Homo sapiens: one gene and its partners. The protein of the gene in region 2 purifies or fractionates together with the protein of the main gene of each other region. This does not show direct contact. Each region holds a gene or a part of one and is shown on either strand. Other genes may lie near its edges.

The links.
Region 1: the proteins of THTPA (region 2) and DIMT1 purify together in Homo sapiens (affinity purification with mass spectrometry; 2 studies listed by BioGRID and IntAct, with this or other methods). This does not show direct contact.
Region 3: the proteins of THTPA (region 2) and CLPX purify together in Homo sapiens (affinity purification with mass spectrometry; 3 studies listed by BioGRID and IntAct, with this or other methods). This does not show direct contact.
Region 4: the proteins of THTPA (region 2) and GTPBP6 purify together in Homo sapiens (affinity purification with mass spectrometry; 2 studies listed by BioGRID and IntAct, with this or other methods). This does not show direct contact.

Annotation. Positions count from the first base shown.
Region 1 is NC_000005.10:62,393,656-62,401,101, forward strand, and holds part of DIMT1 (dimethyladenosine transferase), read right to left. Parts: intron 5,227-7,446; coding exon 5,165-5,226; intron 5,085-5,164; coding exon 4,991-5,084; intron 4,906-4,990; coding exon 4,856-4,905; exon of another isoform or gene 4,774-4,855; intron 953-4,773; coding exon 829-952; intron 393-828; coding exon 300-392; intron 1-299. UniProt on the Homo sapiens protein: Specifically dimethylates two adjacent adenosines in the loop of a conserved hairpin near the 3'-end of 18S rRNA in the 40S particle.
Region 2 is NC_000014.9:23,551,094-23,559,281, reverse strand, and holds the start of THTPA (thiamine-triphosphatase), read right to left. Parts: upstream 3,012-8,188; 5' UTR 2,525-3,011; coding exon 1,978-2,524; intron 588-1,977; coding exon 442-587; 3' UTR 1-441. UniProt on the Homo sapiens protein: Hydrolase highly specific for thiamine triphosphate (ThTP).
Region 3 is NC_000015.10:65,147,273-65,154,342, forward strand, and holds the end of CLPX (ATP-dependent clpX-like chaperone, mitochondrial precursor), read right to left. Parts: intron 6,368-7,070; coding exon 6,275-6,367; intron 5,265-6,274; coding exon 5,158-5,264; intron 3,642-5,157; coding exon 3,551-3,641; 3' UTR 947-3,550; downstream 1-946. UniProt on the Homo sapiens protein: ATP-dependent chaperone that functions as an unfoldase.
Region 4 is NC_000023.11:315,642-323,087, forward strand, and holds the start of GTPBP6 (putative GTP-binding protein 6), read right to left. Parts: upstream 3,156-7,446; 5' UTR 3,147-3,155; coding exon 2,798-3,146; intron 1,844-2,797; exon of another isoform or gene 1,638-1,843; intron 1,411-1,637; coding exon 1,273-1,410; intron 1,265-1,272; exon of another isoform or gene 1,139-1,264; intron 1-1,138.

The DNA of each region.
Region 1 (7,446 bases), on a different chromosome or scaffold from region 2:
AAACAATTACAATGAAAAGATGTTACCCATAATACTACTTTAAAACAACTATTTTCATTTTACCTTGTTTTCCTAGTTTTATTCCATTTTTTCTTTTTTTTTTTTGAGACTGGGTCTCACTTCAAAACTACCTTGCATCAAATTATTCCATCTACTTCAGCACAGGGATGTGTCCTAATTAACATTTTCCTATGTTTGAATATTTAGGTTGATTCAATATTTTTCTGCTGTTATAGGCACACATCTTCCCGCCTGGACTTTTTTTTCCTTTATTGAATGAGCTAGTATTTTAACCTCACCTGAAAATTGATGGGTGGTGGTGGATTCTTAGGTTCTATCCTTACAACACTGGATTCCACCTTGGGCGGTGGTCTGAAGTTATTCTTTCCCACCTGTTAATGAAAAAGTATTTAAGTAGTACTCACAAAGGCAACTTTTATTTAGTAACCAGATATGCTATCCTCACAGAAGGCACAACTGGATGCTCAAGGATGAATTAAGCTAGATTATTTCAATAATAAAAATCACTGGCTGGGTGCTTTGGCTCACACCTGTAATCCCAACACTTTGGGAGGCCAAGGCAGATGGATCATTGAGCCCAGGAGTTCAAGACCAACCTGGGCAACATAGCAAAACTCTGTGTCTACAAAAAATACCAAAAAATTAGTCAGGCGTGGTGACGCACACCTCTAGTCCCAGCTACTCGGGACTCGAGAAGATTGCTTGAGTATGGGAGGCAGAGATCGCAGTGAGCCACTGCACTGCAGCCTGGGTGACAGAGTGAGATTCTATCTCAGAAAAAAGAGAAAGAAAACAAAATTCACTTACTTTCATTAGATGGTCCACACGTGCCAACAGCTGTGTATTAATTGAGAGTCTGCAGTATAACTTATCTCCAGGTTTTGCAACCAGTCGGAGGGCAAATTCTCTTTGAAACATAAGTATAGCACACCTGAAAAGAAAGCAGAAAGGAATAAGGAAAATGGTCATTGTCAACTATAAATGAATTTTAACTGCAATGAATTTTCTTGGGAGAGAAATAGCAAAGCATTGGCAGCTGATTATAAGGTAGGAGAACACATTCAGCCTTTTTTTTATTGCCACAGAATGAGAGAGCTGGCTTTGTTTTTATAATTGCTGTACTCCTCATGGCAAGATAGCTTGCAAATATAAGCCTTTAATGACTGGATGAGATGTTTCAAATCAGCACTAGTCCATCACCTCTTCTATGAAAACAAAGTGAAATAAAATTGTTTCAGTAGCAGTAATATATTTATGGGGTAGCAAACACCTTTAAGGAAGAGGTGAGACTGAAGAGGCAGATTGTGACGTTCAATGTTTCCTTGATTTGACGGGTTAAAAGATGTAGACTTTTTTTTTTTTTTTGAGACGGAGTTTCGCTCTTGTCGCCCAGGCTGGAGTGCAATGGCGCAATCTCGGCTCACTACAACTTCCGTCTCCCAGGTTCAAGTGATCCTCGTTCCTCAGCCTCCCGAGTAGCTGGGATTACAGGCGCACACTACCACCCCTGGCCAATTTTTCTATTTTTAGTAGAGACAGTGTTTCACCATGTTGGCCAGGCTGGTCTGGAACTCCTGACCTCAGGTGATCCGCCCACCTCAGCCTCCCAAAGTGCTGGGATTACAGGCATGAGTCACCACACCCAGCCAAAAGATGTAGACTTTTTATTCAGCAGGCAATGGGGAAGACTTTGTAGGGGTTAACGAACAGAAGAGTATCTTCAAAGCTACACTTTGACATTCAAACTTTTGACAATGAGTCACACTAAAAATACATTTGGCATTGCAAGCCAAGCCACAAATGTCTGTATGTATATGTGTTTATATTGTATTTCAAAACAAAAGTTTCATGAAACCATAATCACCTGGACTACATGCAATGCCCTGTGATATATTCTATTCCATGTGATTACAAAAAAAAAGAATGGTCATGACTCATTAATTTTATAACCACTAGTTTTTGACTTGCAGTTTGAAAGCCACTAGTATATAATATAGAAAGTGACTTCAAAGTTCATGGAAATATTGAATTAAAAGATAAAATAAGGCTGGTGTGGCGGCACACACCTATAATCCACAGCACTTTAGGAGGCCAAGGCGGACAGATCGCTTGAGCTCAGGAGTTCAAGACCAGCCTGGGCTGAACATGGTGAGACCCCTTCTCTAAAAAAAACACAAAAATTAGCTAGGCATGCTGGTACACCCCCATAGTCCCAGCTACTCAAGAGGCTGAGGTAGGAGAATCATCTGAGCCCAGCCCAGGGAGGCTGAGGTTGCAGTGACCTGAGATGTCACCACTGTACTCCAGCCTGTCTCAGAAAAAGAAAAAAAAGAAAAAACATAAACTTTATTATTCAACATAAGCTCCATCAAGTTCAAGACACTTTTGTAAGTGATGATACCAGCATTTTAGTCTATATCAAAAAAACTGAGGCTCTGGGGAATTTAGCCATGTCACTGCAGGTTTTTTTTTTTTACATTATTAACTGAAGAAAAAAGAGTGCCCTTTCAAGATTTTTTAAGACTGGGAAACGAAAATAAATCAGAAGGGCTGGGCACCATGGTTCATGCCTGTAATAATCCCAGCATTTGGGGAGGCTGAGGTGGGCAGATCACTTGAGCTCAGGAGGGGGAGACAGCCTGGGCAACATGGCAAGACCCATCTCTAAAAAAAATACAACAATTAGCTGGGTGTGGTGGCACATGCCCGTAATCGCAGCTACTTGGGAGGCTGAGGTGGGAGGAATGCTTGAGCCCAGGAAGTGGAGGCTGCAGTGAGTGCAGATCATACCACTGCTCTCCAGCCCGGGCACCAGAGCAAGACTGTCTCATAAAATAAAAAGAAGTCAGAAGGGGCCCAATCAGGACTGTAAGGTGGATACCTAACCATTTCCCATTGAAACTCTCGAAAAATTGCCCTCGTCTGATGAGAGGAAGGAGTAGAAGTATTATGGTGGAGGAATCTCTGGGGAAGCTTTCCCAGGAGTTACTCTGCTACATCTTAGCTAACTTTCTCAAAACACTCTTGTAATAAGCAGATGTTTTCATTCTTTGGTCCTAAAGAAAGTCAGCAAGCAAAATGCCCTGAGCATTCAAAAAAAAACTGTTGCTATGACCTTTGCTCTTGACTGGTCTGCTTTTGCTTTGACTGGAGCCACTCCGTTTCTTGGTAGGCATCACTTTCACTCTGCTTTGTCTTTAGGATCACACTGGTAAAGCCATATTTCATCTCCATTACAATTCTTTGTAATTCTTTGAAGAAATGTTTCAGGATCTTGTTTTCTTTTTTGACAATCTCGCTCTGTTGCCCAGGCTGGAGTGTGGAGTGCAGTGGCACAATCTTGGCTCACTACAACCTCCGCCTCCTGAGTTCAAGCGATTCCCCTGCCTCAGCCTCCCGAGTAGCTGGGATTATAGGTGCCCACCACAATGCCCAGCTAATTTTTTTATTTTTAGTAGAGATGGGGTTTCACCATGTTAGCCAGGCTGGTCTCCTGACCTCAAGTGATCTGCCCGCCTCGGCCTCCCAGAGTGCTAGGATTATAGGTGTGAGCCACTCCACCCAGCCATGTTTCAGGATCTTGATCCCAGTTATGTAAAATTTCCACTGGAAGCTCTGCTTTTATCTGCAGCTGATTTGAGTACAATGTTTTTTGTTTTGTTTTTTCATAAAATCTTTCAGAAAAGAGGGTATGACAGTTTTGGCATCTATCAAGTACAAAGTTTGTTTAACTTTGATTTTGCAGTCAGAATTGTGTAAGCTAAACCAACTGTGATGTCTATGGTGTTGGCTATTGTTTGTGCTGTTGAATGTTGTTCCTCGTCACTTAGGGAACAAACAAGATGAATGTTTTCCCACAAATTGATATGGCCAGTGTGCCACTGTAGGCTTCATCTTCAACATTGTCTCAGCCCTTCTTAAAATGAGTTATCCATTAGTAAACTGCTGATTTCTTTGGGATATTGTCCCCATAAACTTTTTTTTTTTTTTGAGACGGAGTCTCGCTCAGTCGCCAAGGCTGGAGTGCAGTGGCGCGATCTCGGCTCACTGCAAGCTCCGCCTCCCGGGTTCACGCCATTCTCCTGCCTCAGCCTCCCGAGTGGCTGGGACTACAGGCGCCCGCCACTACGCCCGGCTAGTTTTTTGTATTTTTAGTAGATGTGGGGTTTCACCATGTTAGCCAGGATGGTCTCGATCTCCTGACCTCATGATCCGCCTGCCTTGGCCTCCCAAAGTGCTGGGATTACAGGTGTGACTCCATAAACTTTTTGTAAAGCATCAATGATTTCACCATTCTTCCAACCAGGTTTCACCATAAATTGGATGTTTGTTCTTACTTGAATTTTAGCAGAGTTCATGTTGCTCTGATAGGGGCTCTTTTCAAACTGATGTCTTATCCTTCTCAGTGCCTCACACTAGATCCTGCTCAGTTAGTACAGAGTTTATTTTGGTGCAAAAAAATTTTGAAATCCATGCAAGTTTTTTTCATAATACACATTTTCCATGAACTTTTTGAAGACCTCTTATACTAGAGACCAGTTAGGAAACCACTGCAATTGTCTAGACATAAGGTAATAAAAATTCTAACCTAGACTTAACGGCAGGAAGATTCAAAAATAGGGAAAGGCTGTCTGGTCTCAGAAGCAGGACTTCCAGCACACTACCCCCAAATAACCTCTCAATTAAAGAGAGAAAGACCTCCATACAAATCAACATTTTCTACAAAAATTCTTCAGTAGTTTTTCAACTGACCTGACTCATTTTTGGCTATGTTCACCACCTGAACTGTAAGTCTTTCAAAATTTGGCAGTAACTCTAGTCTTTTGTCACAAACCTGAAAAAAGGTCGATGTAGCAACAGCTTGAAGACAAAAGGTGAAGAGATCTGTAAGAGAATTAACTAGTTATTTCCGGGAAAGACACATCAGAGGAACAGTTAGTATGATGTTCCTGAAAATGTGAGGACATACCTGATAAGGCAAATTTGCCACACAAGTATCAAAGAATGGCAAATCTGTTTTCAGCACATCACCCACCAGTACTTGAAGTTTGCTGGCCACAGGCCTGATGAGAAAAGAAGAAATGTAAAAAGAATGTTGTTTCATGAGATTGAAATGCACTTTAATTCTATTATGTATACTCACGTGCCCTGAACTCTTTTGTGAAGTTCAGCTACTAGCCTTGGGTCAAGTTCACAAGCAACAACCTAATTTAAAAAAAATAAAAATTATTTAGGTTAATTATGGAATATAAATCTTTTATTGTTATCCCAACAGGAACTCTTACATGATTTATGTGACAAACTTCTTCTCCCATTTCTACCATCAATATTCCTTTAATTATACTCGCATACTTCAAACAACAAACAAAAATGGGCCGGGTGCAGTGGCTCACGCCTGTAATCCCAGCACTTTGGAAGGCTGGGGTGGGCGAATCATGAGGTCAGGAGTTAAAGGCCAGCCTGGCCAACATGGTGAAACCCCATCTCTACTAAAAATACAAAATATTAGGCCAGGTGCAGTGGCTCACGCCTGTAATCCCAACACTTTGGGAGGCTGAGACAGGCAGATCACCTGAGGTCAGGAGTTCGAAACCAGCCTGGCCAACATGGCGAAACCCCGTCTCTACTAAAAATACAAATTTAGCTGGGTACAGTGATGGGCATCTGTAATCCCAGCTACTCGGGAGGCTGAGGCAGGAGAATTGCTTGAAACTGGGAGGCAGAGGTTGCAGTGAGTCGAGATCGCACCATTGCACTCCAGCTTGGGCAAGAGACAGAGACTCTTGTCTCAAAACAAAAACAAAAACAACACAAAATATTAGCTGGGCCTAGTGGTGGGCGCCTGTAATCCCAGCTACTCAGGAGGCTGAGGCAGGAGAATTGCTTGAACCCTGGAGGCGGAGGTTGCCATGAGCCAAGACTGTGCCACTGCATTCCAGCCTGGGTGACAAAGTGAGACTCCATCTCAAAAAAAAAAAAAAGCCGGGTGTGAGGCTGAGGTGGGCGGATCATGAGTTCAGGAGACTGAGACCAGCCTGGCCAACATGGTAAAACTCTGTCTCTACTAACAAATTCAAAAATTATCTGGGCGTGGCGGCACGTGCCTGTAATCCCAGCTACTCAGGAGGCTGAAGCAGGAGAATTGTTTGAACCAGGGAGTCAGAGGTTGCAGTGAGCCGAGATCGCGCCACAGCACTCCAGCCTGGCAACAGAGCGAGACTCCATCTCAAAAACAAACAAACAAACAAACAAACACCACCACCCAGAAAAGTAGACAACCAGATTATGTGAGAGTTCTACTCATATAATCAATAGAATCATGTTTCATCTGTCTCCATGCTTTGTAATTCAACAGATGATGAAAAAAATACACTACATGTCTCTGCAGTCAGTGTTGTTAGAGAAGAGCGTACAATGCAATTGCTCTTACTGTTAGTATGTCACATCTACTGAGATACACAATACATGGCATAGATAACTTCTCAAGTAAATGAAAATGGATGTCAAATAAGGCCGAAATTGAAATTTTATTGCAATTTCAGCTGAGGTTTCACTGACTTTATTTTTATTAAAAAATAATTTTTTTTAAGAGATGGGGTCTCACTCTGTTGCCCAGGCTGGAGTGAAGTGGCGCTATCATAGCTCACTGCTGCCTCGAAGTCTTGGGCTCATGGGATCCTCCCACCTCACCTTCCTGTGCAGCTGGGACCACAGGTGTGTACCAGCACACCAGGCTAATTTCCTTTCTTTATTTTTAATAGAGACGGGTCTCTCTATGTTGCCCGGGCTGGTCTCAAAACTCCTGGGCTCAAACAATCCTCCCACCTTGGCCTCCCAAAGTGCTGGGATTATAGGCGGGAGGCACCATGCCCAGCCTTTTTATTTTTTATAGAGATTGGGTCTCGCTTTGTTGCCCAGGCTGGTCTCAAGCTCATAGCTTTAAGCAATCTTCCTGCCTCAGCCTCCCAAAGTGCTGGGATTACAGATGTGGGCCACAGCTCCTGGCCCTACTTCTATATAGACCCTGTTTACATGGTAAACAATGTGTTTCTTACTCTGTTTGGCTCCCAGATCTATCTTTAGTTTTATTTTTATTTTTTGAGACAGGGTCTCACTGTGTCACCCAGGCTGTAGTGAAGTGGCAGGATCATGGCTCACTGGAGCCTCAACTTCCCAGGCTCAGGTAAACCTCCCACCTCAGCCTCCCTGCTAGCCAGGGCTACAGTCAGGCACCACCATGCCCAGCCAATTTTTTGTAGAGATGGGGTTTCACCATGTTGCCCAGGCTGGTCTTCAACTCCTAGGCTCAAGCCATCCACCCGCCTTAGCCTCCCAAAGTGCTGGGATTACAGGTGTGAGCCACCATGAAAGGCCCTCCCAGATCTATTATCCGCTTTTCTCTGCATCCTACAGATAATGCAGTTC
Region 2 (8,188 bases):
CTTTTCTTCTGTTTCCCACATCCCAAGGCAGGGAAATCCCTGCTGCCTCTCCTCATCTTCTAACTCAGCTGTAAGGCGGTTTAGGAGCCGCTGGCAGAATCAATGGCATCGACCAAGGGAGGGGGGGTGGCAAGGGATTTTCCTGTGCTTAACTACTGATCACGGCTAAGTGGAAATCCTATAAACACGAGCGGAAATCAATGGAGGCTGCTTAGCGGCCAGGGGAGAGGGGCGGCCCACAGATTGCATCTGACGGATGAGCGAGAGGAAGCAGCCAGGGAGGGCTCAAGGAAGAGTAGCTTAGAGGAGGGGGAAGAAACAGGCAGCGCTGGAGAGAGAGGAGTCACTGTCAGAAGGGACACTGAGGGGAGAGGCACAGTGGGCCCAGGAGTGGACTCCGTTAGACCCAGAGTTCCCTTCCCCTTCTAGGAAGTGACACCCCTAGCCCAGGCAGTGGTCAGGATCTTCAGTCTCCTGTGGCCTCTCTCTGGAGCTGTTCACTTCTAGCAGGCGCTGATAGTCTTGAGGCCGGAAACGCTGTAGATACACAATCAGCTTGGCTGGTGCTGTCTCCTGTGCAGGCACACCTACAGGTAAAAGGACAATGAGGAGAGAAATGGACAGAGCCACAAGCACTTGGACTCTGCTCCCTGCCCACCTAGCCAGGACTCCGTGGATGTTTCCAAAGCCACACTGGGGTTCTGAATGTCACCCACCCAGCTTCTGTAACACACTAGTCCACTCCCTGCCTGCCTGTGGAAGTGGGACCTAAAAGAGCAACTTCAGGCAAGAGTGGGACTAGAAGCCACACCTCAGCCTCTCTCCTCCAGCAAGGAGAAATGGCGAAGAGGCACCCAGGCACCAAGATAAACGAAGGATGCCTCAGCGTCAGCTCATTTCAGTTATTACCCTGTTCCGCAATCAAGATTAAAGCCCTAGACCAGGCCAAAGCTCATTAGCTTAGTAATGAAGCACATGCAGAGATGTACACATAGAAACCAAGAGCTATAGAAAGAAGAGGAGGGAAGCTATAGCCATGGGGTGGGATTCACATAGAATTCTCGCCTCTACATGGTGAGGTGAGAATGGAACTGCCTGTTGCCAGTGTCTTGTTGTTAGTGCCTGGCAGCATGCTGGGCACATAGCAAGGAACTCAGTGTATGTTTGCTGAGGGGGCTCAAACAGCACTGCAGGGCTGTAAGGCCCCATGGGATGCACAATTCCTAGTGTGGATGAACTGTCTACAAGGGAATTATGCTTAGGAACAAATCTGCCAAATCATGCCCCACTGTCTCACATAACTATAATGTTATTGTCCTTTACAAAAAGCCAAAAGGACAAATTAAAAGGATCTAGGTAATTGTAAAACAAAAGGACAAGACTGGTTGGACTCTCAGTGTAGTGGGCAGTGCATCAGTCTCATGATCTGAAGATCCTGGGTCTGAGCCTCCCAGAGGGCAGCTTTTGTAAAAAGGCTTACTTTTTACTCCTTGTGGAGGAGTGGTGACTGAAGAAGAAGAAAAAAAAGAGATTGGGGGAAGGAAGAGTCAAAGCAGGGAACTGAGAAATGAAACTGAAGGAGATCTGGCTATAGGTATGAGAACTAAATGAGGCAGGTTGGCTGGAATTAGACACGTGGAAGGACTAGATCCAAATTAGCTACTGTTAAAGAGAAAACGAGATTTCACAGAACTGTAAGCAAACTTAGAAAATTGCTAAAACAATTCCCATTACAAAAATAATCCAGGCCAGGCACAGAGGCTCACACCTGTAATCCCAGCACTTTGGAAGGCCGAGGCAGGCAAATTGCTTGAGTCCAGGAGTTCCAGACCAGCCTGGGCAACACGGCAAAACCTTGTCTCTATTAAAAAAAAAATTTTTAATCCGGAGGCCCTCCCCCACTGCATGGTCCAGCAGGTGCCTCCAAAAGAGAAAAGTGGGGAGCAGGAAAAGCACAAAAGGGCCTGTCTCCCTCACCAAGCATGCTGCTGAGCCTGTGGATCTTCTCTAGGGCAGTTGGTACTTCAGCCTCCTCATGCACCAGGGCCTCTACCTCACCCACAGCGTAGCCAAAGTCGGCTGTATCCAAGTCCACCCTGAGCTGTGGCTCCTCTTCATCAGCTCCCAAGAGCACCAGCTTCCAGGCACTCCGCTTAGTCACAAAACTAGCTACTTCCTGCAGCCCCAGTGGGCCCAGCACAGCAGCCACATCTCCAGCCCCCAGGCCGTCAGCCCGCAGCACCTTACAGAGTTGGGCCACAATTGTAGGTTCCGCTGTGAGTTCCTTATACTCCGTGTGGGGTCCTAAGACACCTGCTGCTCCAGGACATTTGAGCTCCCATCCACTATCCTCTCGTCGTCGCAGCCAGTGGTCAGCCTGCATGAGGCTCAGCTCAGGGGTGTCATAGTAGGTGTCTCGGAAGGTGACCCGGTACTCCAGGGTGCCCCCCAACTCCTGCAGCCGCTCCTCTGTGCCAGGCCCTGGAAGGAACTTTCGCTCCACCTCAATCAAGCCCTGGGCCATGCTACCTGCAATTGGCTGAACAAACGTTTGCTGAGTTCCCAAGGATGCAAAGCCTGGTGCTCAGCTCCTGGGGCGTCAACTCAGTACAGAACCCCTCCCTGGAAAAACTTATGAGGGGCACACTGTGTCGCAATAGTCTCTAGGGCTACTGCCCTTTTCTCTCTACCTCGGTGACATTAAGGCCCCGTCGGTGATATTTTAAGGCTCTGACAGTGACAGGTCTCCAGTAAAATCCCTTCCACTGCTGCTGATGTCCTCAATCCAAAGAGACCCCTAGAAAGCAGGCCGGGTAGCGGGTGTCCTTTCAACGCCCCCCTCTCTACACCTTGCCACCCCAGGAGGCTACTGGCTCACGACCCGGGAGGACCTGCCCTTTCCTGCTACACTACCGGCCAGCGGAACTTCAGGTCTCACCTCAAAGCCCGAGAGTCTCCTCGCGGGACCCACAGAGGGGGAAGGGAGCCCACGCCATACACTCGCGAGGAATGCCGGGAGCAGTTCCGGATCCCGGACCTCGGCCCGACCCTCCGCGCGCCCGGCAGGTCCCGGCACCAGCGGCCATATTACGCCCGTTGTGGCGGTGCCGAGAGCAGGCCAGGGCTCGAGACACGCGCTATGTAATGGGAGGCCGCGACCCCCGCGGTGGCCAGGGGAGCGAGGCCGCCCCTTGCATTCTGCTCCTCATTGTTGGCCCCGCACGGCTCCCGGGGGCTGGTACAGGTCTCATGCCTGAGGCTGAGCCAGGCACCCCGAGGCGCGGATGCATGATGGGAGATGTAGTTCCAAAGGGAGACTTTGCCATCTCGCCCCGCCCGTCGCTATGGCGACAGGAAAGCTGCACTTGGTGCCTGCGGTACTCTACCTAAAGCTGAACTGGGGCTACAAGGCGGCGGGGAGAGTCGGGTGCAAGGAGCTCAAGCCCCAGTCCCGTCTCCAACACCCCCCGCCGCACCCCCAACGCAGGCAGATGGGCCTGGAATACAAGCCATTCACACCGTCCAACAGATATCTGCTATAGCAGCCAGCTAAGCGCAGGCCAGTGGCAATGGTGGCGAGGGGGGTTGGGGTGGGGGGAGGGAAGGGGGCGGGGGCAGCGCGTAATAAAGTCCAGTTTAGCTACTCTGGAGTTTTAGAGGGGATCTAATACCTCCTGGCATGAACGTTGAGGGTAAGAGTGGGTGAGAAACTTTCTGTCAGAGAATAAAGTGGTATTTTGGCCAGGAACTAAAGATATGATGGTATTTCAACAGTTGGAGACCTAGATGGAGACAGGAATAGCCTAAGCAAAGGCCCAGAAACTGGAGAGCACCTGGGTGGTACGTAAGGAGAAGACGAGGCTAGAAATGCAGTTGAGGGAAAAGCCTTGAGTGCTAGACTGAGGAGTTTGTCAGAGTTTCCAGCGGTCCCTAAGCAGTTTTTGTCAGGTGTAGAACTACTTATGTTCATTTAGAATACAGAAAGGCCGGTGCGGTTGCTCACACCTGCAATCCCAGCACTTTGGGAAGCCGAGGCAGGTGAATCACCTGAGGTCAGGAGTTCGAGACCAGCCTGGCCAACATGGAGAAACCCCCCCGGCCCGCCGTCTCTACTAAAAATGCAAAAATGAGCCGGGCATGGTGGCGCGTGCTTGTGTTCCCAGCTACTCCAGAGGCTGAGGCATGAGAATTGCTTGAACCTGGGAGGCAGAGGTTGCAGTGAGCTGAGATGGCGCCACTGCACTCCAGCCTGGGCGACAGAACGAGACTCCATCTGTCCCCAAAAAAATAAAATTCAGGAAAACATGGGGGTTGGCCCTTTGAATGCTTTGGGAGACAAAATATTAATAGAGATGATTCCTTCTTACTCCCTCTGAGGACTATGGTTATCTGGAGACTCTAACTATATGTCTGACCTTCCATGTGAGGAAGCTCCCTGAGGAACCGTGGCTCTTAACTCCTGGACTCCTTCCTATGATGGGTGAGAAGTGCCATGTTCTCAACACCTGCCCTCTCACCAGTATGTTTCTGGAAATACATGACCAGTGAGAGGTATTATAGGGAGAAGGACACTGGTTTAAAGACATGGCATTTTGGCCAGGTGTGTTGACTCACACTTGTAATCCTAGCACTTTGGGAGGTCGAGGCAGGAGGATCATTTGAGGCCAGGAGTTTGAGACCAGCCTGGGCAACATAGGAAGACCCTGTTTCTACAAAAAAAAAAAAAAAAAAATTTTAATTAGCCGGGTGTGGTAGTGCATGCCTGTGGTCCCAGCTGCTCAGGAGGTTGAGGCAGCGGGATAGCTTGAGCCCAGGAGGTCAAGGGCAGTGAGCTACGATCCTGCTACTGCCTGCACTCCAGCCTCGGCAACAGAGCAAGACCCTGTGCATAAATAAATAAACAAATGGCATCTTGAACTTGGAGTAGCTTGGGTCAACCTCTGTCCCCACTCCATGTTAAGCACTGTTGGTTAGGGAGAGAAGAAACCCCAGCTCCTAAAGCCTGCTTTTCATCCATCTTTTGCTTTCCGGTTTTGTTAACCTGGGATGAAGACCTAATTTTTCCTTATGTTATAAGATCCAATCCAGTGGGGCAAAAGCAGCAGCTTATTTGAACAGAAAGACCAGTTTCCGGAGCCAGACCTGAGGTCGACTCCCAGCTTCACTTTCTAGATGTTTGGCCTTCCGCAAGCTACTCCACTTTCCTAAGCATCTGCTTTTTTTTTTTTTTTTTTTTTTTTTTTGAGACAGAGTCTCACTCTGGCGTCTCAGCTCACTGCAACCTCTGCCTCCTGGGTTCAAATGATTCTCCCGCCTCAGCCTCCTGAGTAGTTGGGACTACAGGCACGTGCCACCCCACCCTCCTAATTTTTGTTTGTTTGTTTGTTTGAGACGGAGTCTCGCTTTGTCGCCCAGGCTGGAGTGTAGTGGCGCCATCTCGGCTCACTGCAAGCTCCGCCTCCAGGGTTCATGCCATTCTCCTGCCTCAGCCTCCCAAGTAGATGGGACTACAGGTGCCCACCACCATGCCCGGCTAATTTTTTGTAATTTTAGTAGAGATGGGGTTTTACCCTGTTAGTCAGGATGGTCTCGATCTCCTGATCTTGTGATCCACCCGCCTCCACCTCCCAAAGTGCTGGGATTACAGGTGTGAGCCACCACGCCCGGCCTGTTTTTGGTTTTGAGACGGAGTTTCACTCTTGTTGCCCAGGCTGGAGTGCAATGGTGTGATCTTGGCTCACCGCAACCTCTGCCCCCCGGGTTCAAGCGATTCTTCTGCCTCAGCCTCCCGAGTAGCTGGGATTACAGGTGCCCACCACCACGCCCAGCTAATTTTGTATTTTTAGTAGAGACAGGGTTTCACCATGTTGGTCAGGCTGGTCTCGAACTCCTGACCTCAGGTGATCTACCCACCTCAGCCTCCCAAAGTGCTGGGATTACAGGAGTGAGCCACCATGCCCGGCCAGCCTCTGCTTTTTCATTGAGAAAATGTGGCCTGCCTCACAGTTACCTGTGAGGATTCAGTCATAAACTGTCACATAGTATAAACTCAAAATGTTCATTTATCTCTCCTTTTTGTCATGTGAACTTCAGGGTTTTGTTGTGTTGTTTAAGAGAAGTAGGCTATAGCAGTTAGTATGGGCCCTGGAGCCAGACCATGGAGGTTTTTGAGTCCTGGCACTGTCACTTACTTATTGGCCATTGGACCTTGGGCCTGTTAATTCACTTGTTTGTGCCTTAGTTTCCTCAATAAATGAGACTATAATAGCATCTACCTCATGCTTGAGGTATTGAGAGGAGTAAACAATGTATGTAAAAGTGCTTGGAACTGTCCCTGTGCATTCAAGAAATCTTAAAAATTATTATTAGAATACAGGAGCGGCCGGGTGAGGTGGATCACCCCTATAATCCCAGGACTTTGGGAGGCTGAGGCCGGTGGATCACCTGAGGTCAGGAGTTCGAGACCAGCCTGGCTAAGATGGTGAAACCCCCGTCTCTACTAAAAATACAAAATTAGCAGGGCATGGTGGTGGGCACCTACAATCCCAGCTACTTGGGAGGCTGAGGCAGGAGAATCACTTGAACCTGGGAGGTGAAGGTTGCAGTGAGCCGGGATCATGCCACTGCACTGCAGCCTGGGCGACAGAGTGACTCTGTCTCAAGAAAAAAACAAACAAACAAAAAAACGGGCTGGGCGCGGTGGTGGTTCACACCTGTAATCCCAGCACTTTGGGAGGCCGAGGCAGGCGGATCACAAGGTCAGGAGTTCGAGACCAGCTTGACCAACGTGGTGAAACCCCGTCTCTACTAAAAATACAAAAATTAGCTGGGTGTGTTGATGCATGCCTGTAATCCCAGCTACTTAGGAGGCTGAGGTAGGAGAATCGCTTGAACCCGGTGGTGGAGGTTGCAGTGAGCCGAGATCGCACCACTGCACTCCAACCTGGGCGACTGAGTGAGACTCCGTCTCCAGAAAAAAAAAAAAAAAAAAAATTCAGGAGCACTTAATAAGCGATAAACTGAAGATGAGGAGGAGCCCGAACCTCCCCCAACCCAGCTCAGGGGACTATGTAACCGTGTGGAGGAGGCAGAAGCTCTCAGAGACTAAAGAGTAATTGCTGCGGTAGAGAAGGTTCTAGTACCCAATTTCGCGGGGGGAGATGGGGGAGGCGGAATAATAAGGCAGGAAGAAGAGAATGAAAAAAGGAGGCCTTGGGCGGCTCAGGGCTTGTTCTGAAGCTGATTTAAAACAAAACAACAAAACACATGTATGGTTTCTGCAGGCCACAGGATGAAGAGGAGAGGAGACGGAAAAGAGTTTAAAGGGGCCTGCCCTCTTTGCAGGCACCGGCTTGAACCTGGAGGCGACCTGGTGGGCTGGCCGGCCTGCCCCCGGCCCTGGGTCCCGCGAGGCAGGCGGGCGGGCGCGAACAGACTACAACTCCCGGCATGCGCCGCGGCGGGCGGGTCGCTGCACCTGCTCAGTGGGGCAGCCCCGGGCGCCTGGGTATTGATTATTCCATTGTGTGGGACGCCTAGACTCCAGCCAGTGAATGAGGCGGAGGAGTGAGGGCGAGGAGGAGGAGGAGGAGGAGGGCGAGGAGGAGAAGGAGGAGGAGGAGGAGGAGGCAGGGAGCGAGCGAGTGCCCAGGGTGAATCAATGGAAACCCCCTCACGAAGCCGGGGAAACACTTCAGCCGCAGCCAAATAGCATTGATTATTTTCCTTCACTTCCCTCACCGCCGTGAATTTATTTATTTATTTTTTTCCGTCTCCGTCCCTGACGCCCCGGAGCGAGCGCTGGAGGGAGGGAGGAGGAGGGGAAAAAAGAGGAATCAACACATCGGAGAAGTCCCTTCCAAGAGCCGCCCCCTCCCCTCCCCGCCTCGCGCTGCTCGGTGGCCGCGGTTCGACTCCCGTCCCTGCTTCCAGCTGAGGTGTAAGTGCATCGATTTCCGATGCTGCTGGGTTGGTTTTTTTCTCCTCTCCCTCTCTCTCTTCTTCCCTTCCTTGCTCTTTGGAAGCTCGAGACGGGAGAGGAGGCGCTTGGAGACTGCCGCTGGAGGGGACGGAGAGGGACGGGAAGGGGCTGGGGGAGGGGACAAGGACGGACGGACAGACAGACCGAGAGCCCTGGGAGATAGCAGACAGGGGTGTGGGAGGAAGAGGGCGTGCGCGAGGATGGGGG
Region 3 (7,070 bases), on a different chromosome or scaffold from region 2:
CCAGATGTATGTAGCACTATGGTAGGTGCTGGTTATAGTTAACAAAACAGGCTGGGTCACCATCTTTGTGGAACTTATGGTGTAGTTGGAAAGATACGTAAATAAGCTTGGGAGATTTGCTATAGGACAGGAAATACTAAGCAGTGTTTGGATGCCACTGGGAATAATTCAGAAGGAAGGACACAGATACTATAGTAGAGACATGATCAAAAGAATTAAAGGCCTTGAGAAATGAGAGGGGATGATGAGACCCAGAGCATGTGGGGAGTGACTGAGTTTTGTAGGAGGGATACTTCAGTTGTAACTAGAGAGAAAGGTTGAGTGATGGAGTAGATAGATTTATAGATGGTGGGATGATGAATTCCATCAATGGTTTTTCAATGAAATGTGAAGCAAGATCCTTAGCTAGATGGAGAGGAGAATATTAAATGGTCATTTCAGAGTATTAACAAGAAGTTACAGTTGTTGCTTATTTCTTACCTCCTACAGCTTCCTAGTTGTTGTTTTACACTTCTGAGATTTTGATTTAGTTCTCATTATTCTTTTCTGGCAAATTTCTACTTGTTCTTCCAGACTTATCTAGGCCATCACTTTCTATGTCACCACACCTGGTACCTATCTCACTTCCACTATTAAAATACACTTTAGTTTGTATTTGTTTCCCCTACAAGACTAGTAAGATTCCTGAAAAACTTGGCCTGTGTCCCTAGTGTCAAGCGGGACATTTAAGTAAGGATTTTTGATAAATGTTTAACAGACATTGTCTGTGGAATCTACAGCTAGAATTTATCTGATATGGAAGTGCCAAGGATTAATCAATCCCTAGAATGAAGCAGCTCATATGACATCTGTGCCCTTTTAAAAATGGCACTGTTTGGCTGTGCTTGTTGTTGTCAATGCAGAGTGCTCCTGCACCATTGCTGTATGGACACACCACCACGTTGGCTTTCATTTAGTCTTTTTGTTTTATTCAAATGTCAAAATGTAAGTTCCAAGATACAAATTATGTTTGATTTAAAAACATCGACTATGCTTTGTTAACAACTTCCAAAGCCAAATGTAAGTTGTTGTGACTAAAATGCCTCCCCAGTACATTTCTGGAGGATTAACCTTAATATGTTTAGCAGCTAGTCTGATTTCCACTCTACAAAAAGGAAAATGATGCTATAAGGGAAAGATAATGAACAAAGTTATAATATGTAAGACTTCCTGGGAAGAACTTGAACCATTACTAGGGAGACCAAGGAGAGGTGTTTCTGTTCCATACTATAGCAACCAGCCTTAACACTCTGTAATACAAAGTGCATTTCTGGTCCTACCCAGCCATAAATACCATACATCCCTTTTATTAATTATATCAAAGAAAGCCCAACTCTTCATCAACAAGATTTAGAATTTCCTAATAGCTTTAGTTTTTCCCTAAAAAAAACTGTGTAAAAGGAAAGCTCGAGTCTATAAACCAAAAAAAAAAACCCACAAATATTTACATGTACTCTGATTTAAACAATTTCAAATGAGATTAAACTGAATGAATATAGAACTTGTACCACCATTATAGAAGGAAAGAAAAAAAGCTTAAAAGGTACCCAAATATTTTAATATTTATGGAATTAAATGATACAATTTTCATTAAGACCCCAAATATCCCACCACTTTTTAGCTTTGCTGTATAATGAAGGTTAGTAACTTATATGTTAGTGTGAACACATTTACTTTGGCTGATAGCAAAACATAGATTTTTTAAAATGTTCTAAGAAGCCAAAGAATTAGACCAAAATGTTCAGCACCAAAAAACAAAACAAAAAAACTAGCTCAATACTTCAGGTTAAATACACAATATCAAGAAATTTTATTTAGGTCAGCACATGGCTGTTACTATGACTGATACTGCATGCTATTTCTAGAATTAGATATGTATCTTTCTGGCTGGATGCGGTGGCTCATGCCCGTAATTCTAGCACTTTCAGAGGCCAAGGTGGCCGATTGCCTGAGCTCAGGAGAGACCAGCCTGGGCAACATGGCGAAACCCCGTCTCTACTAAAAATACAAAAAATTAGCCAGGTGTGGTGGTGCACGCCTGTAGTCCCAGCTACTCAGGAGGCTGAGGCATGAGTATCGCTTGAACCTGGGACTCAGAGGTTGCAGTGAGCCAAGATTGTGGCACTGTACTCCAGCCTGGGTGACACAGCGAGACTCTGTCTCAAAAAAATAAAATAAAATAGATATATAACTTTCTGAAGATTTAAGCCAGACTTCAATTCCATGTACTCACCCATAGTACTAAAATGGATTAAAGATGGTAAATAAGGCCGGGTGTGGTGGCTTACGCCTGCAATCCCAGCACTTTGGGAGGCTGAGGCCAGCAGATCACAAGGTCAGGAGTTACAGACTAGCCTGGCCAACAGGGTGAAACCCTGTCTCTACTAAAAATACAAAAATTAGCCAGGTGTGGTGGTGCGTGCCTATAATCCCAGCTACTTGGAAGGCTGAGGCAGGAAAATTGCTTGAACCTGGGAGGCGGAGGTTGCAGTGAGCCAAGATCGCACCACTGCACTTCAGCTTGGGACAGCGTGAGACTCCGCTCAATTAAAAAAAAAAAAAAAAAAAAGATGGTAAATAAATCAGACAACTTGGTAAGAAAATGGCCTTTTTTACAGAACCAATTGGGAAGTTAGTGTCATGCATTAGCAGATAAGACTAGGAATACAGCTAAACCAATTATCAAAATATAGTTCTTCAGGGTATTTTTCAATGAAATGTTTAACTACTTGAAAACTACCTGGTCCAATTTTTTGTTTTCGCCCTGAGACGGAGTCTCACTTTGTCGCCCAGGCTGGAGTGCAGTGGCACAACCTCAGCTCACTGTAAACTCTGCCCTCCGAGTTCAAGCGATTCTCCTGCCTCAGCCTCCCGAGTAGCTGGGATTACAGGCACCTGCCACGGCACCCAGCTAATTTTTCATATTTTTAGTAGAGATGGGGTTTCACCATCTTGGCCAGGCTGGTCTTGAACTCCTGACCTCGTGATCCACCCGCCTTGGCCTCCCAAAGTGCTGGGATTACAGGCGTGAGCCACCACGCCCGGCCTACCTGGTCCAATTTTTAAGATGAATAAAATTCCAATATTTTCAGAAACACATGTGGGTAAAAAAGGTAACACTAAAGAATGGTATCTCAATATTCAATTTTAAAGAATTTATTTTCCCATTTGTAGAGTAACATTATTGTAAAATCTACAGTTATCGCAATACCTGCATTGCTTAAAAGAATTCCTAAGAATTTTGTTAAAGCATATTTTTTTTAAAAAACTGAACCAAAATAATGTACATTTTATCTCTAAACATTGTGTCATTAAAGTCCATATAACATCTTCCGTAAAATCAATGTGATGTTACAATTATATACATGATCTGATTCTTCTCCTAAAGGCTTCTCTGACCATGTATGATATCCAAGATAGATCCAATGCCTTTAATATCAGACTGTAGAGACAATTATGATCCTAAACAAAAGAAGGAAAAGCTGTATATACAAGACAGCAATATGACAGTTTAGCTGTTTGCAGCATCTGCTTGGCGGGGCCATCCTTCTTCTTCAACTCCAGAGTCATACTCCTCTTCAGAGGATTCTTTTGTTGGAGCCCTACAATGAAAAGCCATGTTTGTTTTTTTAAAATAAAAAATGGAGGTAAACATGATCTTTAAAATCAAAACAGCAAAGTAACCTCTCCTAGCTAAGAAAGCCACGATAATAGAAAATATTAGGAGCACTTTTAATATTAAGACGGCTTAGGCCGGACACAGTGGCTCACATCTGTAATCCCAGCATTTTGGAAGGCCGAGGAGGGCTGATCACTTGAGGTCAGGAGTTCGAGACCTGCCTGGCCAACATGTTGAAACCCCATCTCTACTAAAAATACAAAAATTAGCCGGGTGTGGTGGCACACACCTGTAGTCCCAGCTACTCAGGAGGCTGAGGCAAGGGAATCGCTTGAACCCAGGAAGTGGAGGTTGCAGTAAGCCGAAATCATACCACTGCACTCCAGTCTGGGCGACAGAGCAAGACTGAGTCTCAAAAAAAAAAAAAAAAAAAAAAGATTGCTTAGTAATATGGGAAACAGACTATACAACCAAGAGTTGCAAATAAACTTCCCAGCATTTTCCCTGACAAATTTATTACTGGGAGAAAAAAAAAAAAAAAAAAAAAAAAGGACAATATGGCTTCAATTGTGAAGGCTTAAAAAATCCTCTTCTCCAAGAAAGTATCATCTGTTATTTCAACTCAAATGCTGGAACTTAGCATATGTATATGGTAAAGAAGCTATTTCTGATCACATCCGTCTTGTCTCGAACTAGTAAAAATGATAATTCAGGTCACCACAATTCCTTTAAAAGCCATACGTCAATGTCATTAAACAATAAAAATAAAAGATTATATCTCTCTGGATAACTAAGGTTGTTCAAAACACATCAACTGCCTCTAAAGTTATCTTGGAACACAAGCAAACATAAAACATAACATACCTTATGATTTGAGTTAAACAGAAACCTAGCTTTTGTGTAGGTAACATTAATGTCAAGCATTGCATAGTAAACATTTATTGAATAAATCAGGGGTTAGGAAACTGTAGCTTGCTAGCCAAATCCAGCCCCATTGCCTTTTTTTATATATTTTTTGAGACTGAGTCTCACTTTGTCGCCCAGGCTGGAGTGCAGTGGTGCGATCTTGGCTCATTGCAACCTCCGCCTCCTAGGTTCAAGTGATTCTCCTGCCTCAGCCTCCCGAGTAGCTGGGACTACAGACGCACACCACCACGCCCAGCTAATTTTTGTATTTTTAGTAGAGACAGAGTTTCACCATGTTGGCCAGGATGGTCTCTATCTCTTGACCTCGTGATCCGCCCACCTCGGCCTCCTGAAGTGCTGGGATTACAGGTGTGAGCCACCACACCCGGCCTGATGATCAACTTTCAAAGACTCACAAAATACTATTATTTTATAATACCCAAATTAGATTTTTCTACAGAAAACTTGAGATTATTGCTTCCCTTAGAAATATAATAATTTTTATGTAATTTTAAAATGACAAACCAATAAACATAGCAATGAGGAGCTCATCTTAAATTTTGTATCTGTTCTGGCTTGAAAATACACTTTACCGGATGTATCCTGGTTCCTTTTTTCCTTCTACTACTTCTTTGTCAACCTCCACACATACGATATCAGAATTAGGGACTTCAAACATTGGTTCTAGTAACAGCTTTTCCTAAAGAAATAAAAAGTAATGAATCACATTGAAAACAGATTACATACAAGTGCTTTTATTCTATAAATCACAAATTGGAATCCATTCACTCAAGGAAAAAGAAACAAACAAAACAAATATATATATATATATAAACATATATATGGGATTATATATATAAACATATATATATATATATTTGGGATTATAGCTGTGATTACAGGCGTAAGCCACCAAATCTGGCCAATTTTTTGTATTTTTAGTAGAGATGGGGTTTCGCCATGTTGTCCAGGCTGGTCTTGAACTCCTGAGCTCAGGCAATCCGCCTGCCTCAGCCTCCCAAAGTGCTAGGATTATGGGCATGAGCCACCATGCCCAGCCTCTTTTTTTTTGTTTGTTTGTTTGTTTGTTTGTTTTGAGAGATGAGGGTGTATGTTGCCCAGGCTGGTCTCAAACTCCTGGGCTCAAGCAATCCTCCTGCCTTGGCCTTCCAAAGTGTTGGGATTTATAGGTGTGAGTTACCAGGCCCGATCCCGATTTTCTGTGTCATTAATCATATTATGTCTATGTCCTTTGTTGCAAACACCTTGAAGTTCCTTTTTGAGAAAAAGCAAAATATAATCTACTGTGACTAAAAAAAAAAAAAAATTCAGGCCAGGCGTGGTGGCTCACGCCTGTAATCCCAGCACTTTGGGAGGCTGAGGCAGGCAGATCACCTGAGGTTAGGAGTTTGAGACCAGACTGGCCAACATGGTGAAACCCCATCTCCACTAAAAATACAAAAATTAGCCAGGTGTGGTGGTTCTTGCCTATAGTTCCAGCTACTTGGGAGGCTAAGGTGGGAAGACTGCTTGAGCCTCAGCCTGGGAGGTGGAGATTGCAGTGAGCCAAGATCGCACCACTGCACTCCTTTATTTGAGACTCTGTCTCAAAATATATATACATATTTTCCAAAAGAAAAACAGGGAAGCTTAATATACTCAAAACTCAGACCAAGAAATAATTGTTTTTATAGAATAATGCCAACTCACCATTATGGACCGAAGGCCTCGTGCACCTGTTTTTCGTTCTAGTGCCAATCTGGCTATAGCTTTCAAAGCATCCTCAGTAACATTCAGTTCACACTACAAATACATTAAAAATAAATTATAACTTTTATTGTTAATTTGTACCACCAGAAAATGTACCATTAAGTGAGGGCACAATTTCTCATGGTGTTTTGGAACCCTGCCTTCAAGAAGCACTTGTTTCTATCAATCCATGACAGTATCAGTATTATGAATTCCAAGTTTGTTCTGAAGCTTGAAGATGTTTTCTAGATTAACACGGACTCCCTAGGATTTTTTTCAACATTTACTAAACCTCTGTGTGTTACATACTAGGGATTTAATGATGAATAGACATCATCTTTGCCAAGCAACTTACAGTCTATTGTGTGATGACAGATGACAGATTAGCAAACTAGCATTTATAGTCCAGTGTATGTACATGGAGCTAAGGGAGCAGCAAAGGGGGAGACATCTAAATAAGACTAGGGAACCACCGGAGGATTTTAAGCAAGGGAGTAAAAACATTAGCCTTATCTTTAATCATTCAATAAATATTTAAGAACTTAATATCTATTTGTTGGGCACTGTTCTCAATGATCCATTCCAGAAGTAAAGAGGAAGATAATGATATTTTGGTGATAGTCACAGACAGACATGAGACAGGCAGACCAATTAAGAACTAAATGCATGGGTCAAGGTGAATAATATCAAAGGGGCTTGACTTGAGGCAGTGGCAACGGAGAAGAAGAGACTGATATTTAGAGACACAAAGTTCACA
Region 4 (7,446 bases), on a different chromosome or scaffold from region 2:
CACACAAACACAGTAAACACATCCCGGCAGGGACACAAACACATACACACACACACACACACACAGTAAATACATCCCGACAGGGACAGACACACACACAGACACATACACAGAGACACACACAAACACAGTAAACACATCCCAGCAGGGACACAAACACATACACACGCAGACACACACACACACACACAGTAAACACATCCCGGCAGGGACACAAACACATACACATGCAGACACACACACACACACACAGTAAATACATCCCGACAGGGACAGACACACACACAGACACATACACAGAGACACACACAAACACAGTAAACACATCCCGGCAGGGACACAAACACATACACACGCAGACACACACACACACACACAGTAAATACATCCCGACAGGGACAGACACACACACAGACACATACACAGAGACACACACAAACACAGTAAACACATCCCGGCAGGGACACAAACACATACACACGCAGACACACACACACACACACACAGTAAATACATCCCGACAGGGACAGACACACACACAGACACATACACAGAGACACACACAAACACAGTAAACACATCCCAGCAGGGACACAAACACATACACACGCAGACACACACACAGACACACACACAGTAAATACATCCCGACAGGGACAGACACACACACACATGCACCGTGGACACATCCCATTGGGGACACACACACACACACACACACACAGGGTGAACACATCCCAGCAGGGGTGAGATGCATCTGAGTCAGGCAGGAAAGCTGACCCCCACCTGGGCAGGTGACCCAGGGCAGCCGACCCCCACCTGGGCAAGTGAGTAGCGTCTTCCCAACTCTACTGGAAGCGGGATGGTCAGAAACCTGGGAAGCGCAAGGATCGCATGCTGGACCCCACCCTAAGAGACTGCTGGTGGGGTGGGGGTCACCCAGGAGGAGGATTTGGCTGGGGCCTGCAGGGGCAGGTGGGGTTACAGCCGGTCCACCGCCTACCCTGTTTGTTGGACTCTATAAACTGCCCCGACCTAATCTTTACCAGTTTAAGTCTCTCCAGGGCCCGGTGTGAATCTCGACACAGATAAAGCCTCACCGTCCTCCGACTCCTACTGGCGTGTGCTCCCAGCTCACCTGGGCAATCCGAGAGGCCGCTTCCCCTCTGGCCCCGCAAGACCCCCGTACTTCAGCATGTCTCGGTTGGATGTTTTCGGTAGCGGCGGACAGGAAAGGAGGTTTGGGGAAGGAGCAGGTCTGGACGGACCCACCTGTCAGGTGCTCAAAGTTCCCTTTGCCAAAGATGAGCTTCCTGTCCGGCGTTTTGGTGGACACGACCATTGTCTGCACCACGGACCAGCCGTCCAGCGTGTGCACCAGCGCTGTGGCCTCCGCCACCTGCCACTCGGCTGCGGGGACACAAGGGCCACCGTGAGAGACGCTTCTGCCCGGGGCCCCCGTCCACACCTGCCCGGGGAGGCCTCCTCCTGCCCTTGAGACAATCTCCCCGGAGAAGGCACCTTGAGCCGCCGTTTGTCCCCCGATATGACTTCGTCCCCCCAGGGCCTCTAAGTAGGAATCTGACGGGAGAAGGACACCGGAGCCACAGCGGGACACGAGGGCGACCCTGCCTTACATGGAATTTGGGCTCCAGGCGGGCGCAGCAGGGAACCCGGGAGCTGCGGGTGCTCAGGGGATTACTGAGGAACCACCGGCAGGTTTGGGGAGTAGAGAGGCAAGAGGTCTGCGCGCTGTTCTGAGCAGTTCGGGGCTTCATCTGTTCCAGGAATTAGCCATTTTGGAAAACACCCGTAAAGAAAAACCACTCATCGACTACAGGAGCTTCCAAGGGAAAAATCAACCTTTATGAGACTCTGACACGTGCAGCGACTTATTCATTTGCATTTCCTCCTGGGGGGTGGGGGGTGGGACTAGACACAGATTGGTCCGCTGGACGCCCTCCCTTCCCTGACCTCAAACACACCGTGCCTACCTCTAACCCAGAGCAAGAGAAACGTAGGTCCCATCGGCGAGAACCGCCCCGGCCCACCCAACCCCACCCCACCCCACCCCACCCCACCCCACCCCACGGACCCCACGGGCCCCACCCCATCCCACGGACTCCACCCCATAAGCTCCGCCCCCGCACTTTTACCCCATAGGCCCCTCCCCCGAAGCCCCGCCCACGCACCTCCACCAATGATATCCTCCCCTCTTCCCCATAAGCCCCGCCCTTTCACCCATGGGCTCCTCCCCCGAACCCCACCCATGCACCTCCACCTATGAGATCCTCCCTTCAGAGCCCCGCCCCCGCATCACCATCCATAAGCTCTTCCCCTCAGAGCCCCGCCCCTCAGCGCCACGCCCTGGCATCTCCAACCATCAGACCCTCTCCTTAGAGCCTGGCCCCCTGAAGCCCCGCCCCTACGTCGCCACCTGAGCTCTTCCCCTCAAAGCCCCGCCCTGGGTCTCCACCTATGAGATTCTCAGGTCAGAGCCCCGTCCCTGAATCTCTACCTATGAGCCTCCCCAGAGCCCCGCCCTTGCATCGCCAGCTATGATTCTCCCGAGTCCCGCCCCTGAATCTCCACCTATGAAATCCTTCCTGCAGAGCCCCGCCCTTGCGCCTCCACCTATGAGATTCTCCCCACAGAACCCCGCCCCTGAATCTCCACCTATGAGATCGTCCCTTCAGAGCCCCGCCCCTGAATCTCCACCTATGAGCCCCCTCCCCTCAGAGCCCCGCCCCCAGGTCTCCAGCTCCTGTTTCTCCCCCGAAAGCCCTGCCGCGGTCACCTCGAGTCATCTGCGACTTCCCCGGGCCCCACTTGACGTCAGGGTGAACCAGACACACGCGCTGGGTCCCCGCCGGCAGCAGAGGCTCTCCCCGCAGCAGCTCCTCCTCGGCGTTCTCGTCCGCATCTTCCGGCTCCTCCTCGTCGTCTCCCGTGCGGCTTCGGCCGCCGTCCGCCCGCAGGCCCCGCCCTCCGCCCCACGGCCCCTCCAGATTCCCGGGGCTCCTGCGGCCGACAGCGGCTAGCGCGCGCGCGGGGCAGGACGGCGCGGCTGCCCGCGGAGCCGAGCGGCCGCGGCCCACGCGGGAGAGCCGCAGCCCCGGGCGTACGGCGGCCCGCAGGGCCCACATGGCGCGTCTGGAGGCTGAACGTTGGGGCGGGGGCTGCCCACAGGCCGCTCCTCATCACGTGCTCGTGATTGGCGTGCGGCCGGGGCTGGCTCACCAGCGCCTCTCCCCGGCACAGGCCGTGCTCCTCATTGGTCATCCGGCGTCACGTGCTAGTGATTGGCGTGCAGCTGGGGCGTGCTCACCAGCGCCTCTCCGCAGCATAGGGCGTGATCCTCATTGGTCATCCCTTGTCACGTGCTGGTGATTGGCGTGCGGCCGGGGCGGGCTCCCTAGCGCCGCGCCCCGGCAGGGCGTGCTCCTCATTGGTCGCCCCGCATCAGGTGCTGGTGATTGGCACGCGCTGCCGGCGGGGGAGGCGGGACCGGGCCGCTTCTTGTTCGGCGTGGGCGGCTCCTGGCAGACCCATCCCGCGGTGCAGCCGCCGGCCCGGTAGGCGCCAGGACCCCGAGCCTCGGCGGCGGCGGCGGCGGCGGCAGCGCTGCCTTCACTCACCTCGTCCTCGCTCCCGTCCTACCCCGTTCCGCGCTGGGTGGAGTCCAAGTCTGATTGCGAGAGTCCGGAACGCCGCCTCGGGGGCTTGACTCCAGCCCCGGGGATCGAGAACGGCGCCCAGGGGTCCCTACGTCTGCCTTGGGGGCTCGAGTCCCGCCCTGGGCGTCCGTGACGTCGCCCAGGGGTCTCCACGTCTGCCCTGGAACCTGGAGAGCCGCCGTGGGGGCCCCGGAAGCTGCCCCGGAGTCCCCACGTCTGCCCTGGGGGCTCGAGTCCAGCTCTCAGGGTCCCGGACGCCACCCAGGGGGTCCCCATGTCTGCTTTGGGGGCTCGAGTCCAGCCATGGGGGTCCTGGACGCCGCCTCGGCGTCCCCGCGTCTGCCTTGGGGGCCCGAGTCCCGCCCTGGGGGTCCTGGACGCCGCCTCGGCATCCCCGCGTCTGCCTTGGGGGCTCGAGTCCCGCCCTGGGGGTCCCCGATGCCGCCCGGGGGTCCTCACGTCTACCTTGGAGACTGGAGTTCCCCCGTGGGAGTCTCGGACGCCACCCCGGAGTCACCGTGTCTAGCCTTGGGGGCTTGAGTCCAGCCCTGGGGGTCCTGGACGTCGCCGAGGAGCCCCCACGTCTGCCTTTGGGGCTTGAGACCTGCTCTGGGGGTCCCGGTCGCCGCCCAGGTGGGTCCCCACGTCTAGCCTTGGGGGCTTGAGTCCAGCCCTGGGGGGCCCGGATGCCGCCCGGGGGTTCTCCTCGTCTGCCTTGGGGGTTGGGTCCAGCCCCAGGCGTCCTGACCACCGCCCAGGGGCCCCCACGTCTGCCTGGGGGCCTCAAATTCAGTCCTGGGGGTCCCGGACGCCTCCCAGGGGTCTTCATGTCTGCCGTGGGCCTCGAGTCCAGCCGTGAGGGTCCCGAATGCTGCCTTGGAGGGTGGAGTCCAGCTCTGAGGGTCCTGAAGTCAGCTTTGGGGGTTCGAACCCATCCATCCCAGGGGTCCCTGAGTCTACATTAGGGGCTGGAGTCCAGCCTTGAGGGTCTCCACTGCTGCCTTGGGGGCCTGGATGGGATCCAGCGGGTCTGAGTCCAGCCTCGGGAGCCCCTGCGGTGGAGCTCTGAGTGGGGCAGGGGCCTGGGAGATGCCAGGAGGATGAGAGCGGCGCCCCCCTGGTCCAGGGGACAGTAAGAGGCAGCCGGTCTCAGAGAAGCTACCCCAAAACTGTTACCCGTGGTGTGCAGAGCGTCCTGCAACCCCAGCCCTCACCAGGATTTCTTGCGTTTTTCAGGAAATCGGTTGTGATTGGCATGTTCCTTAAGCGTCTGCAGGAAGCCGAGGCCTTTTTGGTATTTCAGGAGGGGTTGCTAACCCCCCTCCTTGTAGGATCGGGGTATCCCAGCTGCTAATTCCCCTCCTAACAGCCCTGCAGCGCCTGGATTGGAGGTGTGACAGGTGGCATTTTTGGCCCGAAGTCCCTAGGCAGGACGGGTGGCTGTAGCCTGCGCGTTTGTGTAAATTAACCTCCCTTTTTAGTTCTGTGAAGGGAGAACGTGATTAGTTTAAAATCACCTGCGTGAAAGAGGCTCTTGATTAGTTTAAAATCACCCACGTGAAAGGGGCTCTTGATTAGCTTAAAATCACCTGGGTGTTTCGTTTTATCTCAGTTGGCCTCTGAATGTTTATCCTACAGCTTCCTGCAAGCTCCAGTCTACCTTCTAAGGGAATAACGGGGCTCGTCTTTCTACGTTACTTTATGTGGGAGTAGTTGTAAAACAGAATGAGGGAGACCGCGGGGATTGTGCGGAAATGTAGCCACCGTTTACATGTCGGGAGGCTGAGGTGGGAGGATCGCTTGAGCCCAGGAGTTTGACACCAGCCTGGGCAACATGGTAAGACCCCTTCTCTACCCTCCCCCCCAAAAAAAAAATTTTAGTGTGGCATGGTGGTGGGTGCCTGTGGTCCCAGCTACTCGGGACGCTGAGGTGGGAGGATTGCTTGAGCCCAGGAGTTTGACACCAGCATGGGCAATATGGTAAGACCCCATTATCTACAAAAAAAAAAAAAAAAAAAGAAAAGAAAAATTAGCCGGGCGTGGTGGTGGGTGCCTGTGGTCCCAGCTGCTCGGGACGCTGAGGTGGGAGGATTGCTTGAGCCCAGGAGTTTGACACCAGCATGGGCAATATGGTAAGACCCCATTATCTACAAAAAAAAAAAAAAAAAAGAAAAGCCGGGCGTGGTGGTGGGTGCCTGTGGTCCCAGCTGCTCGGGACGCTGAGGTGGGAGGATTGCTTGAGCCCAGGAGTTTGACACCAGCATGGGCAATATGGTAAGACCCCATTATCTACAAAAAAAAAAAAAAAAGAAAAGCCGGGCGTGGTGGTGGGTGCCTGTGGTCCCAGCTGCTCGGGACGCTGAGGTGGGAGGATTGCTTGAGCCCAGGAGTTTGACACCAGCATGGGCAATATGGTAAGACCCCATTATCTACAAAAAAAAAAAAAAAAGAAAAGCCGGGCGTGGTGGTGGGTGCCTGTGGTCCCAGCTGCTCGGGACGCTGAGGTGGGAGGATTGCTTGAGCCCAGGAGTTTGACACCAGCATGGGCAATATGGTAAGACCCTATTATCTACAAAAAAAAAAAAAAAAAAAAAGAAAGAAAAATTAGCCTGGTGTGGTGGTGGGTGCCTGTGGTCCCAGCTGCTCGGGACGCTGAGGTGGGAGGATTGCTTGAGCCCAGGAGTTTGACGCCAGCATGGGCAATATGGTAAGACCCTATTATCTACAAAAAAAAAAAAAAAAAAAAAAGAAAGAAAAATTAGCCTGGTGTGGTGGTGGGTGCCTGTGGTCCCAGCTGCTCGGGACGCTGAGGTGGGAGGATTGCTTGAGCCCAGGAGTTTGACACCAGCATGGGCAATATGGTAAGACCCCATTATCTACAAAAAAAAAAAAAAAAAAGAAAAGCCGGGCGTGGTGGTGGGTGCCTGTGGTCCCAGCTGCTCGGGACGCTGAGGTGGGAGGATTGCTTGAGCCCAGGAGTTTGACGCCAGCATGGGCAATATGGTAAGACCCTATTATCTACAAAAAAAAAAAAAAAAAAAAAAAAAGAAAGAAAAATTAGCCTGGTGTGGTGGTGGGTGCCTGTGGTCCCAGCTGCTCGGGACGCTGAGGTGGGAGGATTGCTTGAGCCCAGGAGTTTGACGCCAGCATGGGCAATATGGTAAGACCCTATTATCTACAAAAAAAAAAAAAAAGAAAGAAAGAAAGAAAAATTAGCCTGGTGTGGTGGTGGGTGCCTGTGGTCCCAGCTGCTCGGGACGCTGAGGTGGGAGGATCACCTGAGCCCAGGAGGTGGAGGCTGCAGTGAGCTTAGATTGCAGCACTGTGCTCCAGCCTGGGTGACAGAGTGAGACCCCATCTCAAACAAGAAGCACCAAAAGGTGTCTGAGATCAGGCACGGTGGCTCACGCCTGTCATTCCAGCACTTTGGGAGGCCGAGGTGGGTGGATCACCTGAGGTCAGGCATTTGAGACCAGCCTGGCCAACATGGAGAAACACTGACTCTACTAAATGTGCAAAAATTAGCCGGGCGTGGTGGCACACACCTGTAGTCCCAGCTACTCCAGAGGCTGAGGTAGGAGAATTGCTTGAACCTGGGAGGTGGAGGTTGCAGTGAGCTGAGATTGTACCACTGCACTCCAGCCTGGGAGCTGAGATTGTACCACTGCACTCCAGCCTGGGCCCTAAAGCGAGAGCTTGACGGTGGGGTGGGGGTGTGGGATGGACCTTCTGTGGTCCCAGCTACTCGGGAGGCTGAGGTGGGAGGATC